Linked DNA regions of Homo sapiens: region 1 is linked to region 2. The links come from fine-mapping of genetic effects on gene expression. Tissue or cell type: whole blood. Region 2 holds a variant in brackets; the other region holds the start of a gene. All regions are shown on one strand. Distances are between the middles of the regions.

Evidence for each region. PIP is the estimated chance that this variant, and not a neighbour inherited with it, causes the effect.
Region 1: SPACDR starts here. The variant in region 2 is the best candidate, but not a certain one, in a credible set for the expression of SPACDR in whole blood (TOPMed, PIP 0.86).

Annotation. Positions count from the first base shown.
Region 1 is chr7:100,461,871-100,467,239 of GRCh38, forward strand. It overlaps SPACDR (sperm acrosome developmental regulator), which reads right to left and starts at 2,390. Exons shown (of 3, transcript NM_001004323.3): 1 at 2,093-2,390; 2 at 1,493-1,816. The coding sequence starts at 2,155. TSC22D4-C7ORF61 (TSC22D4-C7orf61 readthrough) reads right to left here. Exons shown (of 6, transcript NM_001395846.1): 5 at 1,493-1,816. It overlaps TSC22D4 (TSC22 domain family member 4), which reads right to left. Exons shown (of 5, transcript NM_030935.5): 5 at 4,649-5,298. The coding sequence ends at 5,089.
Region 2 is chr7:100,289,906-100,295,274 of GRCh38, forward strand. No RefSeq gene overlaps it. Among named protein-coding and RNA genes, the nearest start is that of SPDYE3, 15 kb to the right of the region's middle. The variant G/A (reference allele first, on the strand shown) is at 3,392.

The DNA of each region.
Region 1 (5,369 bases), 170 kb after region 2:
TAGTCCGAGCTACTCAGGAGGCTGAGGCAGGAGAACGGTGTGAACCCAGGAGGCGGAGCTTGCAGCGAACCGAGATCCCGCCACTGCACTCCAACCTGGGCGACAGACTCCGTCTCAAAAAAAAAAAAAAAAAAAGGCCTCACCTGACTCCTTAGGTTTGGATAACATGCCTCTCTCCTGGGGTCCTACAGCCCGCTTGACAACGTCACACTCAACAATGTGTGGATACTGAACTAGCAATGCCTATTGTCTCATCTGTAGCCCTGCAAGTCTGCAAGTCTTGTTCATTGTTGTATCTTTAGTACATGGCATTTGGTGGACGCATAGGAAATATTTTTTATTTTTATTATTTATTTTTTTTGAGATGGAGTCTCGCTCTGTCGCCCAGGCTGGAGTGCAGTGGTGCTATCTCGGCTCACTGCAAGCTCCGCCTCCCGGGTTCATGCCATTCTCCTGCCTCAGCCTCCTGAGTAGCTGGGACTACAGCCACCTGCCACCTTGCCTGGCTAATTTTTTGTATTTTTAGTAGAGACGGGGTTTCACCATGTTAGCCAGTATGGTCTCAATCTCCTGACCTCGTGATCAGCCTGCCTCGGCCTCCCAAAGTGCTGGGATTACAGGCGTAAGCCACCGTGCCCGGCCAGAAATATATATATATTTTTAAGAGACAGAGTCTCGCTCTATTGCCCAGGCTGGAGTGCAGTGGCACAATCATAGCTCATTACAGCCTTGAACTCCTGGGCTCATGTGTTCCTCCTGCCTCAGCCTCCCAAGTAGCTGGAAATACAGGCACCACTAAGCCTGGCTAATTTTTAACTTTTTTGTAGAAATGGGGTCTCACTTTGTTGCCCAGGCTGGCCTTGAACTCCTGGCCTCAAGTGATCCTCCTGCCTCAGCCTCCCAAAGTGCTGGGACTATAGGCATGAGCCACCATGCCTGGCTAAGAAAGAAAACATTTGCCGGGCATGGTGGCTCATGCCTGTAATCCCAGCACTTTGGGAGGCTGAGGCAGGTGGATCACTTGAGGCCAGGAGTTCGAGACCAGCTTGGCCTCGTGGTGAAACCCTGTCTCTACTAAAAATGCAAAAATTAGCCAGGCGTGGGAGTCTGTAGTCCCCAGCTACTCGGGAGGCTGAGCCAGGAGAATAGCTTAAACCGGGGAGGTGGAGGTTGCAGTGAGCCGAGATCACGCTACTGCACTCCAGCCTGGGCGACAGAGGGAGACTCTGTCTCAGGGAGAAAAAAAAAAAAGAAAGGAAGAAAAAGAAAAAGAAAAAGATATTTTAAGAGACAGGGTCTTGCTATGTTGCCCAGGCTGGTCTCGAATTCCTGAGCTCAAGTGATCCTCCCATCTCAGCCTCCCAAAGTGCTGGGATTACAGGCGTGAGTCACTGCACCAGGCCAGGAAACAATTGTTGAACAAGTAATCAGAGGGAGGGGTGAGTCACTGGGGGCTGGGGAAAGAGGGAGGGGGTGTTAGGATGGTGCTGACCTTCCAGCTGCACATCTGCCAGCCGCTCTGCAGGGCAGAGACCATGAGCGTGGAGACAGACTTGACGGCCGTCCTCGGCAGCTGCAGTAGGGATTGGCCCTGTTGGCCCAGCTCCACCTCGGTCTCCTCTGTAGTCTTGGCCAACACGCAGGGATCTGCCAGCTCGGGGGACTCACCCAACTTGGGCTTAGCCTCTTTTGGGAGCTCGACCAACCTCAAAGTCTCAACCACCTGGAGAGTCTTCTCCATCTTCTTCAATGAGTGTTTCTTGGAGTCAGGGTGTCCTGAGATGGTTGGTTTAATTTTTTGCCTCCAGAAGAAAACCTGAGAACCAAGACACAGAGAGGAGAGACAGGAGAGAGGGGCAGGGCAGAGACAACACCATCCACAGAAAAGAAGGCACAAAAGGGATGGAGCAGTGAGTTTCCTGGCCTCTCTTCCTTCTCCTCCAGCCCCTCCCCAGCTGTCCTTTCCTTCCTCCCCACTCCATCTTGTTTGGCCACAGGCCAGGAAGGGAGGGAACCCACGCAGTAAGGGGCTGCTGCGACCCATGCCCTCATCCCAGCGCATCATGAGGACAGAGTGGTCTCAGAAACTCACCCAGGAAATAATCCTTTGCCAAGCCCGTCTAACCCATCGGAAGAACTTCATGACCACAACCATCTCTCTTGATGGGAAAAACACAGAAGAAAGGGCAGAGCTAGCATTTGGTACGGTGGGGGTGGCGGGTGGGGGATGGGGTGGGCTGTGGGCCGGTGACCACCTCTTGAGGGGTCTCCTGTGAGCTTCAAGCACAGCAGTAAAGAAAGAAGTAGGAAATCCTGGGGGAAGCCCCTCCTGGCAATGAATCCCAGACCTTTTCTCCCCTCCCTGGGACAGGGAGAGGAGTCGAAGTAGGTGAGAACCTACAGTGAGGGAGAGTTCTAGACCATTGTGAGGCTGCCTGGCCCCGACCCCAACCCCCGAGGCCCTGCCCAGACCCACAGAGTCCATCTCTTCCACCCTGGCTCTTCTTCGCTCAGATCCAGGGAAAATAAACTAACACGTAACAAACTAATAAGCACTGTTCCTGCATCACGTCCTGCAGTCCTTCACAGCAGCCCTTCAAGATAGGTATTATTGTTAGTGCCACTTCATCAAAGAGGAATCTGAAATTCAGGAAAGCTGAAGGGGGCCGGGCATGGTGGCTCATGCCTGTAATCCCAGTGTTTTGGGTGGCTGAGGCAGGAGGATCACTTGAGGCCAGGAGTTGAAGACCAGCCTGGGCAACATAGTGAGACTCCCCCCAACTCACTATGTTTAAATTTTTCAAAAAAAGAGTTTAAATCAGTTGGGAGTGGTGGTGTGTGCCTGCAGTCCCAGCTACTCAGGAGGCTGAGGCAGGAGGATTGCTTGCGCCCAGGAGGTGGAGGCTGCAGTGAGCCATGATTGTGCCACTGCACTCCAGCCTGGGCAACAGAATGAGACCCTGTCTCAAAAAAAAAAAAAAAAAAAAGGAAGGAAGGAAGGAAGGGAGAGGAGGGAGGAAGGAAGAGAGAGAGACAGAGAGGAGAGAAAGAAAGAGAGAGAGAGAGAGAAAGAAGAAAGAAGGAAAAGAACAAAAGAAAGAAAAGAAGGAAAGAAAAAAACAAAAAAGAAAGACAAAAAAGGAAGGAGGGAAGGAAGGAAGGAAGGAAGCAAGGAAGGAAAAAACTTAAGAGAGCCAGGTGTGGTAGCTCACACCTGTAATCCCAGAACTTTGGGACGCCAAGGTGGGAGGATTACTTGAAGCCAGCAGTTTGAGATCAGCCTGGGCCATATAGCGAGATGGTCTCTACCAAAAAATTTAGGCTAGGCGCAGTGGCTCATGCCTGTAATCCCAGCACTTTGGGAGGCTGAGGTAGGCAGATTACTTGAGTTCAGGAGTTTGAGACCAGCCTGACCAAAGTGGTGAAACCCCTTCTCTACTAAAAATACGAAAAAAAAAAAAAATTAGCTGGGTGTGGTGGTGCACACGTGTAGTTCCAGCTACTCAGGAGGCTGAGGCATGGAAATCGCTTGAACCTGAGAGGTGGAGGTTGCAGTAAGCTGAGATCTCACCACTGCATTCCAGACTGGGTGACAAGAGCGAAACTTCGACTCTAGCTGGGCATAGTGCCACATGCCTGTAGTCCCAGCTACTTAGGAGGCTGAAGTGGGAGGATCACTTGAGCCCAGGAGTTGAAGACTGCAGTGATCTATGATCACACCACTGCACTCCAGCCTGTGCAACATAGCAAGGCCCCATCTCTACAAAAATAAAGAAAATTAGCTGAACGTGGTGGCGCACACCTATAGTTCAGGGAGGCCAAGGCGGGAGGATCACTTGAGCCAGGAACGTGGAGGCTGCAGGGAGCTGTGATTGTGCCACTGCACTCTGGGCATCAGAGCAATACCCTGTCTCAAAAAAAGAAAGGAGAAATGAAAAAAAAAAAAAGAAAAACCAAAGAAGTTGCCCAAGGTTATGAACCTAGGGAAACCTAAGGAGGCAGAGAGTCAGGCACTCCAAGACAGGTCAGCCTCCTTGGAGGCTGCTGGGGCCAGGGGATCCCGGGGCTAGGGGCCTCCTGGGGCTACAGCTGCAGCTCTCGCCTCTTCCCCACTAGATGGGGTCCTTCTCCATTGCTGCTGACTCTTCCGCCTGGGACCGGAGCCCAGGCTGCCAGGGAGGGGCCAGCTCACCCACAGGGCCCGTCCTCAGCTGGCCGGGGGTGGGAGCCACGGCGGCTGGCCAGGCCTGGCAAGGGCACCGTGTGCCCGGGGAGCCTGGCCCACACCCAGCCCCGAGACAAGGGGCCCATTCAGGGCCCCCCGCCCCGCCCCCAAGCAGCCACCCGGATCCAGCCCGCAGAGGGGACACACTGGGAAGCCAGGGGTGGATCTTGGGCAACCACCAAAGACCTTATTGTTTCCCAGCCCCCCGCCCAGCACGTGGGCAGACGCCCCCCCACCCCCAATCCTCACTTGCCCCTTCCCAGGACCCGAACCGCTGGCTCCCTTCTCCAGCCTCTGTCTCAATTCCTCCGTCTCCCACGCTTTAAACCTCCCCAGTCTGCAAAAGATCTCAGGGGAGCCCTAAATGGCAGGCGCGACCCCTGAGTCTGAACACAAGCAACGAACGAGATGTCAACCTCCAAATTCAAGTTTCTTCAGAGTTTTTAATTATTATTATTATTTTAATAACAACCTGAATCCCAGAACTTCCAGATACTGTCCACACTCCCTCCCCTGGGCAGAGGAGAGGAGGCACCTCAAGGGAACAAGATGGGGGTGGGGTGTCTGCCGGGGAGCCTCCGACTCCCCCAAGCCGTCTACTGCTGGGGGGTCCCAGGAGGGAGGGTGGGGGTTGGTTCCCTCCCAGAGGGGGCTCCCTCTGACGCCCCGTCCTGAAGCCCTCCCTCCTCCATCAAGGCTGGGGATGATGAGGAGATGGGGCAGGGGCCGGGGGACCAGGCCATTACTGAGCCTTGAACTCCCACCCCGGGGACACGGGGACATTAAAGCTGCATAGGAAGAGGGGGCAGGCGGCTGACGCAAGGCCGGGCAGCCCCAAAGGCACATTGTAAGGGAAGGGAGGCTCAGACGGAGGGCCCATTGGGCGCAGGGGGCCCAAGCCGTGGGACCCCCGAGGAGGGCAGCTGAGCCAGCTGCTCCGGGCTGGCCAGGGCGCGCAGCAGCCCATTCTCCTGCTCCAGCGCAGCGTTCCGCTCCGCCAATTCCCGGATCTGCTCCTTCAGCACCTCCACCTCCTCCCGGACCGCAAACATGAGGTGGGACTTCACCAAGTCCTGGGGGCCCCGGGACAGGCACAGCGTCAACGGGGTGGGTGCCTCATCCCCTGCCCAGTGCCTTGAGGGCT
Region 2 (5,369 bases):
GCAGAGACACGATCTTGGCTCACTGCAAGCTCCGCCTCCTGGGATCACGCCATTCTCCTGCCTCAGCCTCCTGAATAGCTGGGACTACAGGCAGCTGCCAACACGTCCAGCTAATTTTTTGTATTTTTAGTAGAGACAGGGTTTCACCGTGTCAGCCAGGATGGTCTCGATCTCCTGACCTTGTGATCTGCATGCCTTGGCCTCCCAGAGTGCTGGGATTATAGGTGTGAGCCACCGCGCCCAGCCAATAACAGACTTATCTTTCTGCCTCTCACCTGACTCTGAGAGACTTTTGCTGCCATGATCTCTACATCTGAACTCCTCCCGAGAGCAGAGCTGCCCAGAAGGACCATCTGTGGTGATGGAAATGTTCTATGAATGCACCATCCAATATGCTGGCCACTTGAACACACGTGGTCCTGGCCCTTGTGGGCACTGGAATTGTGAGCAGCGTGACTGAGTATCTTAGTCTATTTGGGCTTCTGTTACAGAAAACCATAGGCTGGGTGGCTTAACAACACACATTTCTCTCTCACAATTCCAAGATTGAGGAACCAGCAGATTGGTGTCTGGTGAGGGCCCACTTCCTGGTTTGTGGATGGCTGTCTTCTCCCTGTATCCTCACATGATGGGGAGTGATATAGTTTGGCTCTGTGTCCCCCGCTTAAATCTCATGTCGAGACCAGGTGCAGTGGCTCACACCTGTAATCCCAGCACTTTGGGAGGCCGAGGTGGGCGGATCACCTGAGGCCAGGACTTTGAGATTAGCCTGGACCACATGGTGAAACCCTGTCTCCACTAAAAATACAAAATTAGCCGCGTGTAGTGGTGGGCGCCTGTAATCCCAGTTACTTAGGAGGCTGAGGCAGGAGAATCGCTTGAACCTGGGAGGCAGAAGTTGCAGTGAGCCCAGATGGCGCCACTACACTCCAGCCTGGGTGACAGAGTGAAACTGTGTCTCAAAAAAAAACAAAAAAAGAAAAAAAAAGAGGTTTCATGTCAAATTGTAATCCCCAGTGTTGGAGGTGGGGCCTGGTAGGAGGTGATTAAATCATGGGGTGGATTTCTCATGAATGGGCTGGCACCATCCCCTCCATGCTGTTTTCATGGTAGGTTATCATGAGCTCTGCTTGTTTAAAAGTGAGTAGCACCTCCCCACCTCTCTCTCATCCTCTTGCTCTGACCATGTGAGATGTGCATGCTTCCCCTTTACCTTCCACCATGATTGTAAGTTTCCTGAGACCTCCCCAGAAGCTAAGCAGATGTCAGAATCATGAGTCCTGTACAGCCTGTGGAACGTGAGCCAATTAAAACTCTTTTCTTGGCTGGGTGTGGTGGCTCACACCTGTAATCCCAGCATTTTGGGAGGCCAAGGTGGGTGGATCACCTGAGGTCATGAGTTCGAGACCAGCCTGGGCAACATGGTGAAACCCCCGTCTCTACTAAAAATACAAAAATTTGCTGGACGTGGTGGCAGATGCCTGTAATCCAGCTACTCAGGAGGCTGAGGCAGGAGAATGGCTTGAACCCAGGAGGTGGAGGTGGCAGTGAGCCAAGATCGTGCCATTGCACTCTTGCCTGGGTGACGACAGTGAAACTCCATCTCCAAGAACAAAACAAAACACCCCTCTTTTCTTTATAAATTACCCAGTCTCAGGTTTTTCTTTATAGCAGTGCCAGAATGGACCAAGACAGGGAGAGAGGAAGCAAGCTCTGTGATGACTCTTCTCGAAAGGCTGCTAATCCCATCAAGTGAATTCCACCCTTATAACCTCATCTCAACGTGATCACCTCCCAAACTTCTTGCCTCCAAATACCATCACATTGGGAGTTAGGAGTTTGACATATGAATTTTGGAGAGTCCACAAACATTCTGCCTGTAACACTAGAAATGAAATTTTGATTTCATTTTATCTATTTGTTTGAGACAGAGTCTTGCTGTTGCCCAGGCTGCCAGTGCAGTGGCGTGATCTCGGCTCACTGCAACCTCCACCTCCCAGGTTCAAATGATTCTCCTGACTCAGCCTCCTGAATAGTTGGGACTATAGGCACCCACCACCATGCCTGGCTAATGTTTTTTGTATTTTTAGTAGAGACAAGGTTTCACCATGTTGGCCAGCCTGGTCTTGAACTCCTGACCTCAAGTGATCCTCCCACCTCGGCCTCCCAAAGTGCTGGGATTACAGGGTGAGCCAGCGAACTTGGCCTTCCTTTAATTTTAATCAATTTAAATGTAAAGAGCTGCATGTAGCTAGGAGCTACTGAATTGGACAGCACAGCCTTAAGGAGAGTGGAAATCAGCTGAATCCAGTTGAAACAGGAGTTAAATCAGTTGGAGCCAGCCAACATTGGATGACCTTGGCTGAAACCACCTGAAACTGGTTGAAAGGAGCCACAAACTGTTCACAACCAGCTGAAGCTGAATTAACCTGGCTGAAACTGGATGAAGTCATTTGAAACCAGCTGAAACTGGATCAAACCAGCTGGCAGTGGTTGAAACCAGATGAAATCATTTAAGTAGGGTTTGTCATATTATTTTGCTTCTTGATGAACTAGTCCTGGGTTTTTTTTGTTTGTTTGTTTTTTGTTTTTTTTTTGAGAGAGAGTCTTGCTGTGTCGCTCAGGCTGGAGTGCAGTGGTGAGATTTCAGCTCACTGCAACCTTCTCCTCCAGGATTAAAGTGATCTTCCTGCCTCAGCCTCCTGAGTAGCTGGGATTACAGGAGTGCACCACCACTCCCGACTAATTTTTTTATTTTTAGTAGAGACAGGGTTTCATCATGCTGGCCAGGTTGGTCTCAAGCTCCTGACCTCAGGTGATCCACCATCTTGGCCTCCCAAAGTTCTGGTATTACAGGCATGAGCCCTGGTGCCCAGCAGCATAAACATTTAGTTTTATTCTAACAAGGTAGCTTGTACATTTTAAGATATAAAACTGAACATCTTTTTTCCTCTCCAGAGAAACATAAGGAAAACCAAGGAACTTTTTACAACAAACATTTTTAAACATTTACAAAAGTAGACAGAAGAGTACAGTGAACCCCTGTGGACCCACTGCCCAGCTTAAATAGCAATCAGGATTTTGCCAATGTGCTCCAAACTATCCTCCCCTTCCCCTCTTTTTCTTGGCTGGGATGTTTTAAAGCAAATCCTAGATATGTAGTAAAAAGAAAATGTAAAAGTAAAACAGAACAAAAATTACAATGCAGAATACCATTTCCAAATAAGATCTGGCCAGGCGCGGTGGCTCACGCCTGTAATCCCAGCACTTTGGGAGGCTGAGGCGGGCAGATCACATGAGGTCAGGAGTTCAAGACCAGCCTGGCCAACACGGCGAAATGCCGTCTCTATTAAAAATACAAAAATTAGGCCAGGCGCGGTGGCTCACACCT[G/A]TAATCCCAGCACTTTGGGAGGCCAAGGCGGGCGGATCATGAGGTCAGGAGATTGAGACCATCTTGGCTAACATGGTGAAACCCCATCTCTACTAAAAATACAAAAATTAGCCGGGTGTGGTGGCAGGCGCCTGTAGTCCCAGCTACTCGGGAGGCTGAGGCAGGAGAATGGCGTGAACCCGGGAGGCGGAGCTTGCAGTGAGCTGAGATCGTGCCACTGCACTCCAGCCTGGGCGACAGAGCGAGACTCAATCTTAAAAAACAACAACAACAACAAAACCCAAAAATTAGTCGAGCATGGTGGCATGCACCTGTACTCTCAGCTACTTGGGAGGCCGAGGCACGAGAATCACTTGAACCTGGGAGGTGGAGGTTATAGTGAGCCGAGATCGCACCACTGCACTCCAGCCTGGGCAACACAGCGAGACTCTATCTCAAAAAAAAAAAAAAATCTGTTAGGCTGAGGCTGGGTGCAGTGGCTCATGCCTGTAATTGCAGCACTTTGGGAGGCTGAAGCAGGAGGAACACTTGAGCCCAGGAGCTTGAGATCAGCCTGGGCAATGGAGCAAGATCCCCCAACTCTACAAAAATATAGAAGCCAGGCTTGGACCAGGTACATGCCTGTGGTCCCAGCTACTTGGAAGGCTGAAGCAGGAGGATCATGTGAGCCCAGGAGCTTGAAACCAGCCTGGGCAGTATCAGAGACCCCATCTCTACAAAAAATTTCAAAATTTAGCCTGGCATTGTGATGTGCACCTATGGTTCCAGCTACTTGGGAGGCTGAGACTGGAGGATCATTTGAGCCCAGGAGTTTAAGACTGCAGTGAGCTATGATGGCACCACTCAACTCCAGCCTGGCCGAGCAACAGAGTGAGACTCTGCCTCTAAAAAATAAATAAATAACAAAAACTAGGTGTAGTGTGTAGTGGGTCATGCCTATAATTCCAGCACTTTGGGAGGCTGAGGTGGGAGGCTAGATTGAGCCTAGGAGTTTAAGACCAGCCTGGGCAACATGGCAAAACTTGTCCCTAAAAAAAATACAAAATTTAGCCAGGCATGGCAGTGCACGCCTGTGGTCCCAGCTACTTGGGAGGCTGAGGCAGGAGGATCATCTGAGCCCAGGAGTTCGAGACTGCAGTGAGCTGTGATTGTGCCACCACACTCCAGCCTGGGTGAAAGGGCAAAACCCTGCCTCAAAACAAACAAATATACAACAACAACAACAACAAAAACCCTCAAACAAGATCCTTTATGTTCTTCAGTTTCTCCATCAAGCAGCAGGGCCCCAGGTAGCATTAGAAGTGGATTTTCTTTTTTTTTTTTTTGAGACGGAGTCTCGCTCTGTCGCCCAGGCTGGAGTGCAGTGGCACGACCTTGGCTCACTGCAAGCTCCGCCTCCTGGGTTCATGCCATTCTTCTGCCTCAGCCTCCCCAGTAGCTGGGACTACAGGCGCCCACCACTATGCCCAGCTAATTTTTTTTTATTATTTTAGTAGAGACGGGGTTTCACCGTGTTAGCCAGGATGGTCTCAATCTGCTGATCTTGATCTTGTGATCTGACTGCCTCAGCCTCCCAGAGTGCTGAGATTACAGGCGTGAGCCACCGCACCCGGCCAAGAGTGGATTTTATATCTAAAGCTACAGTTTAAACCACAAGGGCGTCTGCTAAATACCACCCAAGGAGAAGCTAAGTTGTCAAAATGCCCACTCAACCCTCCCAAACATCTCAAACCCACCCTTTTCTGATCTCTACTCCAACGTCTTTTGTTTTTGTTTTGTCTTACACCAGGAGAAGAGAGAGATTCGTGTTGACAAGTCCTTGTTGTCCAGACTCACACGGATACAGCTGTGGGGAAGGAAGGAAGGCTGCAATGCTGCTGTTTCCATGAACATGCCTGGCACCCTCCAGGTGTCAGCAGGGCCAGGGGAGTGGAGAACTGGTCTCCCTCTCCGCTCCTCTATAGAACACAGTAGTGTG